Linked DNA regions of Homo sapiens. The gene in region 1 interacts genetically with each later gene. Each region holds a gene or a part of one and is shown on either strand. Other genes may lie near its edges.

Region 1 (5,803 bases):
CTTAGCCTCCCAAGTATCTGGGACTACAGGTACATGCCACCATGCCTTGCTAATTTTTTGTATTTTTTGTAGACAGGGTCTCGCCATATTGCCCAGGCTGGTCTTGAACTCCTGGACTCAAGTGATTTGCCCACCTCAGCCTCCTAAAGTGCTGGGATTATAGGTGTGAGCCACCATGCCTGGCCTTTGTGGCCAGGTTGATAATTTGAACAGTGGAACAGCTGAGCTTAGCACCTCCTCATTGTTAACTGTGGAGGTAGCTTATGTGCTGATCACAGAGAGGTGTGATGGGAAAAGTGCTGATAATCTTTGGAGTCAGTCCAATTTGGTTCTGAGACCGGGCAAGTTCTTAATGTCTCTGGGTTGGTTTTTTCTTTTCTAAAATGGGAATGATAATGTTGTCTTTTAAAGGGGACTGTGGGCTGGGTGTGGTGGCTCACACCTGTAATCCCAGCACTTTGGGAGGCCAAGGTGGGAGGATTGCTTGAGTCCAGGAGTTTGAGACCAGCCTGGGCAATTTGGCGAGACGCCATCTCTCCAAAAAAAAATACAAAAATTAGCCAGGTGTGGTGGTGCACACCTGTAGTCCCAGCTACTTAGGAGGCTGAGGTGGGAGGATTGCTTGAGCCTGGGGAGGTTGAGGCTGCAGTGAGCCGTGATAATACCACTGTACTGCAGCCTGGGTGACAGAGTGAGACCCTGTCTCAAAAAAATAATAATAATGGGGGCTGTGAGGCTGAGCTGAAATCAGGTGTGTGGAGTGCCTCACATAATTTATAGTTTATACTGGCTGACAGTAGATGTTCATCTAATGTTCCCTTCCCTTTTTTGTTCCCATCAAAACAATAACCCCTTAATGAAACAGTCTTAAGGAAAACTTTTTGTTACCTGACTTCTCATGCAACTTTTGGCTAAGTTACAGTGATGCTTTGTGGACTCATGTTTTTTTTCTTATGCATACTCTGATCACCAGGTATCAAGGTTACATTGGTGCAGCCCTAGTTTTAGGGGGAGTAGATGTTACTGGACCTCACCTCTACAGCATCTATCCTCATGGATCAACTGATAAGTTGCCTTATGTCACCATGGGTGAGTGTAACGTTTTCCTGATGTTTAAGAGTACTCTTACTTACCACGATGGTCTCTTGAAGAGCTGGTCTGTTTTCTCTTAGAAGAGGAGGTGCAATACAATGCTTTGATTCATTCAGCAAATATATACTGAGTTCCTACTATAGATTAGGCCGTGTTCTAGGTGCTTGCTATATAGCAGTCAACACAATTCTGATAGTGATTCCTGCTCTCGAGGATTTTGTATTTTAGTGAGGGTAAATAGACAATAAACAACTGTGAGAAGTATATTTATAATACACAGGTATTCTAAATTAATACACAGGTATTATAAATATATATAAATATACACAGGTTATACAACCTGTGTATTATGAATATATTTTTATAGTCTGAAATCTGAAAAGCTCCAAAATCCTAAAGTTTTTGAGTGCTAACATGATACTCATTGTAACATTTTTATTTTTATTATTTTTTTCTTTTTTGAGATGGAGTTTTGCTCTGTTGCCCAGGCTGGAGTGCAGTGGCATGATCTCGGCTCACTGCAACCTCTGTCTCCCGGGTTCAAGTGATTCTTCTGCCTCAGCCTCCCAAGTAGCTGGAGTGATAGGCACACGCCACCATGCCCGGCTAATTTTTTGTAGTTTTAGTAGAGATGGGGTTTCACCATGTTGGCCAGGCTGGTGTCAAACTCCTGACTTCAAGTAATCTGCCCACCTCGGCCTCCCAAAATGCTTGGATGGATTATAGGCATGAGCCACTCTGCCCAGCCTCATTGGAGCATTTTTGATTCTGGATTTTTGGATTAGGGATGCTGAATTGGGTGAGTTATAATGTAGATATTCCAAAACCTGAAATCTGAAACACTTCTGGTCCCTGGCATTTTGGATAAGGGCTACTCAGCCTGTATTAGAAAGTGATACTAAGAAAAAAAGTAATACAGATGATATTGTACTATAGTTACACAAGATACTATCTTTGAGAGAAACTGAGTCAACTTCATATGGAAATGCTCTATTTTTTACATCTGCATATGAATTTGCAATGATCATAAAACAAAAAATTAAATTCACACATGATAAGGGGACTTGGGAGTTGTGGGCAGGGGCTGGGGTGGAGGCAGATGGCAGTGTTAAATAGAAAGATCAGGGCCAGGCACGGTGGCTCATGCCTGTAATCTAGTGCTTTAGGAGCCTGAGGTGGGAGGGTTGCTTGAGGCCAGGAGTTTAAGACCAGCCTAGGCAACATAGCAAGACCCGGTCTGTGCCACATATATATATAAGCTGAGTGTGGTGGTGTGTGCCTGTAGTCCCAGTTGCTTGGGAGCCTGAGGCAGAAGCATTGTATGAGCCCAGGAGTTTGAGGTTGCAATGAGCTGTGATCAAGCCATTGTACTACATCTTGGGCAACAGAGTGAGACCCTGTCTGTTTAAAAAAAAAAAAAAAAAAAATGTCAGGACAGGTCTTATGAAGAAGGTGAGATTTGAGTAGAATTCTAGAGTAGAAGCCTTACATTGAAACTTGGCAGGTACATTTTGACCTAGAGGAGTGATTGTGGTCCTTCTTTACTACTTAATCTCTGAGGGATTGGGGTATTTGATTTCTATCTGAACCTCAATTTCCTTACCTGTGAAGTGGTATTGGTAATACCTACCACACCAAGTTGTAATGGTTGGAAATAACGTATATAAAGCATGTGCTCCAATGCCTGGCCTGTAAATAGTAGTTATTTTTTTGCCCCCTCTCTTCCTCATTTGCTAACCAGCTTTTTGCATTTATGTTTTAGCTCTAGCTGCTAGATTAGGAGATTTTTTGACAGGCTCTCACTCTGCTGCACAGGCTGGAGTACAGTGGTGCAATCACAGCTCACTGCCACCTCGACTTCCCCGGGCTCAGGTGATCCACCCACCGCAGCCTCCTGAGTAGCTGTGACTACAGCCATATTCTGCCACACCCATCTAATTTTTGTATTTTTTGTAGAGATGGGATTTTGCCATGTTGCCCAGGTTGGTCTCGAACTCCTGGGCTCAGGTGATCTGCCTGCTCCAGCCTCCCAAAGTGCTGGGATTACAGGTGGCTGATAATTTTTTTTTTTTTAATGACTGCAAAAAATAGTGATAAAATTATATTTAGAAGAATTGGGATTTTCAAGTTCTAACATTTACATTATTGCTTCTGGGTCAAATTGCATAGGTCCAGAAATTCGAACAGGTTGTGTGTATCGTGTAGCTGGTGTTTTTCCAGCTGTCATTTACCTCTTAATATTTTCTGTCTTGGTGTCTTGGCTCCACATCTAGGAAAACTGCTGCCTTGAGTAGTTTGGAAATTGCCAGTTTGAGACTTTGCTATGCCATTGTGTTGTTATCTAGCCTCTTACAAGGTTTTTATATAACAGATGTTCACTGTTTGTTGGGGAGAATGATTTATCCCCAGATACCATACGGATGAATCTTTGCAGTTATTCTAAAATGAAGATACTTATGGTAATTTTAGAATTGTTCTGAATTGCTTTATTCAAAGGTATTAGGTATCTCCATCAAAGTATTGCTTTTATTTCTCCCCATCTGATACCTTTAAATGGTGGTAAAGGTGGAATAACCTTTTCTATTAAGTAGTTTTTATTTTTTCTTTTTTTTACTTAAATTTCAGACTTGCAGAAAAGTAACAGTAACGTTCAACAAACACTGATCTGTCCTTTACTCAGATGTGTCAGTTGTTAGCATTTTGACACATGTGTTCTGCCTCTCACACACACATTGTTATTCCTATCATTGTTTCGTGTGCGTGGGGAACCATTTGAGGGTAAATAGCAGGCACCACAGCCTTTCACCTCTGAATCCTTCAAGATGTTCTCTTCTGTCACCTTGATAAAGTCATCAAATTTAAGAAGTTTGACATTGATACAAAGCAGCTTCATTTGTAAAATGGGAAAATTGGTTTCTCTTGCCAGTGAACTGTGGTAATTTGTGTCATGAGCATAAAGCTGAATTAGGAAAAGTTGTTGAAAGTGAGTAGGTAAACAGCTTTGTGTCTGCCCATTTTACTTCTGCCGCCCAACTTTGTGCTTTTTCCTGGCCAAGAGTGACCTCCTGTCTGTCCAAGTCTCATTTGAGTTCCGGGTGATGGGTCCACAGCTCTTGAGTTTATAGAATAATTCTATTTAGAAACCACTGACTCCACACAGACTGGTTTTGCTGCCCTAAAATGCCAGATTAAGGAGAATGAGACATCAGTAACATCTGATTTTAATACCCAAGTAAATTGTTACTTTGAGGTCTTGTTTGTTCCTCCACTCATTTATCAGCTTTTTTTTTTTTTTGAGACTGAGTCTCGCACTGTCACCCGGTCTGGTGTGCAGTGGCATGATCTCTGCTCGCTGCAACCCCTGCTTCCCGGGTTCAAGTGATTCTCCTGCCTCAGCCTCCCGAGTAGCTGGGACTATAGGCATGCACCACCATGCTCAGCTAATTTTTGTATTTTTAGTAGAGAGGGGATTTCACTGTGTTGGCCAGGCTGATACGGAACTCCTGACCTCGTGATCTGCCGGCCTCTGCCTCCCAAAGTGCTAGGATTACAGGTGTGAGCCACTGCACCCGGCCTCATCAGCTCTTTAGTGAGTGCCTTCTGTGTAAAGGCACTATAGCAGGCAGCACAGATAGAAGTGAATATCAGGGTCTTTGTCCTCAGATACTCAGTCTAATGGGGGAGACAGATGTACCTACTGACGAGGGCAGGAGGGGACCCAAGGGAGAAAAGGTCACTTCCAAGCTGGGATAATTCAGGAAGAACTTCACTTGAGCCGAGTCTTAGAAGGAGGATTGGATCTCTTCATTCATTTGTCTGATGTGTATTAAGCATCACTAGTGCGGAGCACTTTGCTAGGAGCTGGGAAGATTAGTGGTTAACACAGCGTCTGCCTCAGAGCCTATAGTCTTGTGAGGGAGACAGGTATTAGACAGGTAAATTCACATGAACCTAGAAGAATGCATTGTGATAAGTGCCCCAGAGGAAAAGAACAGTCATTAGAGAGGATAATAGGAAGGAGTGTGTGGCTGGTGGGTGTTTGTGTAGTCCTTTCTGAGCAAGTGACATTCAAGCATTTTCTACTGAACATAATTTATGAACATGACAGAACATTCAAGTGGGACAAAGAACTATAAGAAAAGTCTCCTTCACATCCCTCCAGAGTAACCACTGTTAAGAATTGTTTGTATTTTTTTCCAGAAAATGTGTTATGATAAACTTTCACGTATCTCCTTCTCTGTCATCTAGTTACCCCTTTAAAAAAAACACACAAATGAGCTCATGCTATACATAATATTCTTCCCTTACTATTAACTCGTTTTGAAGAAGTGTTTATATCAGCTTACGTGGGCCTATAGAATTTCTGTAATAATAGCAAGCTGTACAGAATTGTATTATGTGGCTACACCATGCTTGCTGACCCATTCTTCTTCTGATGAACATCTTGTTTTTCATATTTTGGTAACAAATGTGTCTTGGTCTACTTGTATAAATACGTACTTCATTTAGATAAATTCTTAGCAGTGGAATTTCTGGATTAAGGTGTACACGTTTCGGCCAGAATTCTCTGTTGCAAGCAGTTGAGTCACTGGATGATTTAAGGAAGAGAGGGATTTTTGAGAAAAGTATAGCAGGTGGCTCACAATGTAGTTGGGAGGGCAAGAACTGGGTTTGGGGCCAAGAACAGTGTCTCAGTCTATGCTGCGGGCAC
Region 2 (2,420 bases), on another chromosome or scaffold:
AAGCAAAGCCTGTTTTTATTTCTTCTTCCAACAGTGCTTTATATTGTTTGGATATCTTGTTTAGGATTGATTTATTTTTCAGGGTAAATTCAATTACTGAGAGAGGAATTGAACCAATCTCAGCATTGCATTCTAAAATGGGGCAGTAGGTGGCACTCAACCTTTTATTAGCAGAAAATTGTTAGTTTCAAATTAGAGTGTTCAACACTGCTTCCCTCTCATTCATACACGTCTTCATTAAGAAGAAGTACTCTTTGTCTACAGCCCTAGTCCAACTTTTGCATGCAAAAGAAGAATCGAGGATGCTTGCTTGTTAATGCAGACTTCTGGGCCCCACCCCAATGATTCAATTCACTAGGTCTTATGGGGGGCTGGTTTCAGAAATCTATGTTTTAAACAAACACTTCCAGGTAATTCTGTTGTAGGGGACTACGCTTTGAGAATACGGCTTTAGGAGAATGAAAAAATGTAGTTTTATTGCCATGTTTTAAGATGGCATTAATAATAGTTACTGTTTACTGGGAACTTGTTATTTGCAAGCTCTGTGCTAGTATTTTACATAATTCTTCACAACATCCTGAAAATGTAGCTTTTGTTTTACCACTTTACAAAGGAATAAACCGAAGCACACAGAATTCAAATAACTATCACAAGTCACACAGCATGTAAATATTGGGGCTATGATTGAAAGGTTTCTAAAGTAGCTGGTTCTGCATACCTTTTGAGTATACAGCTGGGTTTTTGTGTCTCTCCAGTTAACCTAATGCATGGGTAAAAAGACATCAGGGGTCAGTGGAATAAACCAAGGTGTAGGACAGATTCATTCTGGGTCCTAAGCTGTTGTAGCATGGAGTCAGGGAAATAACACTGGAATATTAAAAGGTAACCTTCATTCTAGTCTGTGCATTCTCATTAGCCAGAAAGAAGACTGGATAGGTCTCTTCCCTTGCTGGCCTCCATTTCATTCATTTATGAAACAAGAGACTCAATGTTCTCTGTAGAAAACCTTTTTTAGAATCACTTGAAGAATTTGTTTAAAAATGCAAATTCCTGGGCTCTACTCTCAGACTAAGTGAATCAGAAGCTTTGGTGTGGGAGACCATGGAACCTGCAGTTTTAATAAATGCCCCAGTGATTTGCATGTTGGAGAATTATCACACCAGGTCACTGTGCTCTCATGTGGTGGGGATGCTCCACGATTGCTCTTGGAGTTGTGACTTCCTTGGGTGTGACTAAAGCCAGGTGGTGCCATGGACATCATAAATATAAATTATGTAAGTGAAGGCACTGCTTCAGTCAGGCTGTAAAAGCTATTTTGAAAGTGGTAAGGAAAAAGTAGGATTGTAATGAAGAAAATTTCCTTCCCAGGTTAAGCCTTCATTTGGAACTGCTTCCAGTACGTTACAAAAAGTAATAATAGCTAACCTGTGTCACTGACTGTATCTGGTACTATTTTAAGCACTATATATACATTATCTCAATGAATCTTTCCCATTGTGACATCCGGCTAGTTTTCGTGGCTAAGAGTGTACTTTCTAACATCCATGAACATTGTGGTCCCCACCTGAAGTTTCACTTTGCATGTTCAGTGATATGGTTTGGCTCTGTGTTCCCACCCAATCTTATCTCAAATTGTAATCCCCATGTGTCCAGGGAGGGACCTGTAATCCCCACCTAGTGACGGAGGGAGGTGATTGATGATGGGTGTGGTGTACCCCATGCTGTTCTCGTGATAGTGAGTGGGTTCTCATGAGATCTGATGGTTTTATAAGTGTTTGAAAGTTCCCTCTTCACTCGCTGTCTTGCCTGCTGCCATGTAAAATGTGCCTACTTCACCCTCTGCCATGATTGTAAGTTTCCTGAGGCCTCCCCAGCCATGCAGAACTTTGACACAATTAAATGTCTTTTCTTTATAAATTACCCAATCTTGGGTATTCTTTATAGTGGTGTGAAAATGGACTAATACATTCAGAAGCCATTATCTGTTATTCTTTAATGGCAATCTCTGAATGCTTGTACTTTCCTTCTTTTCCAAAGAATTACTGTAGACCCAAATTTTCATCATTTGAGTGTAGCACATTCAGAAAGTACACCAATTGCAAGTATACAGCACAAATTATGATCAGCTGATGAACATGTACAAATAACCCCCATTAAGACAAGAAATAGAACATAAATAGCAACCCTGAAGCCCCTACCTGCACCCCCGGTCACTACCCCATCTCTCTTCTCAAAAAGTAATCATGATAGATTAAAAAAAAAAAAGGTCAGCTTTTGTTTTTTCAACTCTAATTTATTGGGCAACTATTATATACATGGTACTGAAGATACAGGCAGTGAACATAGTAAATATGGCCCCTGCCTGAAAGAGCTGACTGATGGGAAAGACAACTGTACATCTATCATTGAAAGTATTTATT

Evidence for each region.
Region 2: changes in PSMB7 (region 1) and MRPL22 together harm fitness more than expected from each alone (negative genetic interaction), as found in Homo sapiens cells (one large-scale study listed by BioGRID).

Annotation. Positions count from the first base shown.
Region 1 is NC_000009.12:124,400,603-124,406,405, reverse strand, and holds part of PSMB7 (proteasome subunit beta type-7 precursor), read left to right. Parts: intron 1-973; coding exon 974-1,089; intron 1,090-5,803. UniProt on the Homo sapiens protein: Component of the 20S core proteasome complex involved in the proteolytic degradation of most intracellular proteins. This complex plays numerous essential roles within the cell by associating with different regulatory particles.
Region 2 is NC_000005.10:154,967,492-154,969,911, forward strand, and holds the end of MRPL22 (large ribosomal subunit protein uL22m), read left to right. Parts: 3' UTR 1-1,920; downstream 1,921-2,420.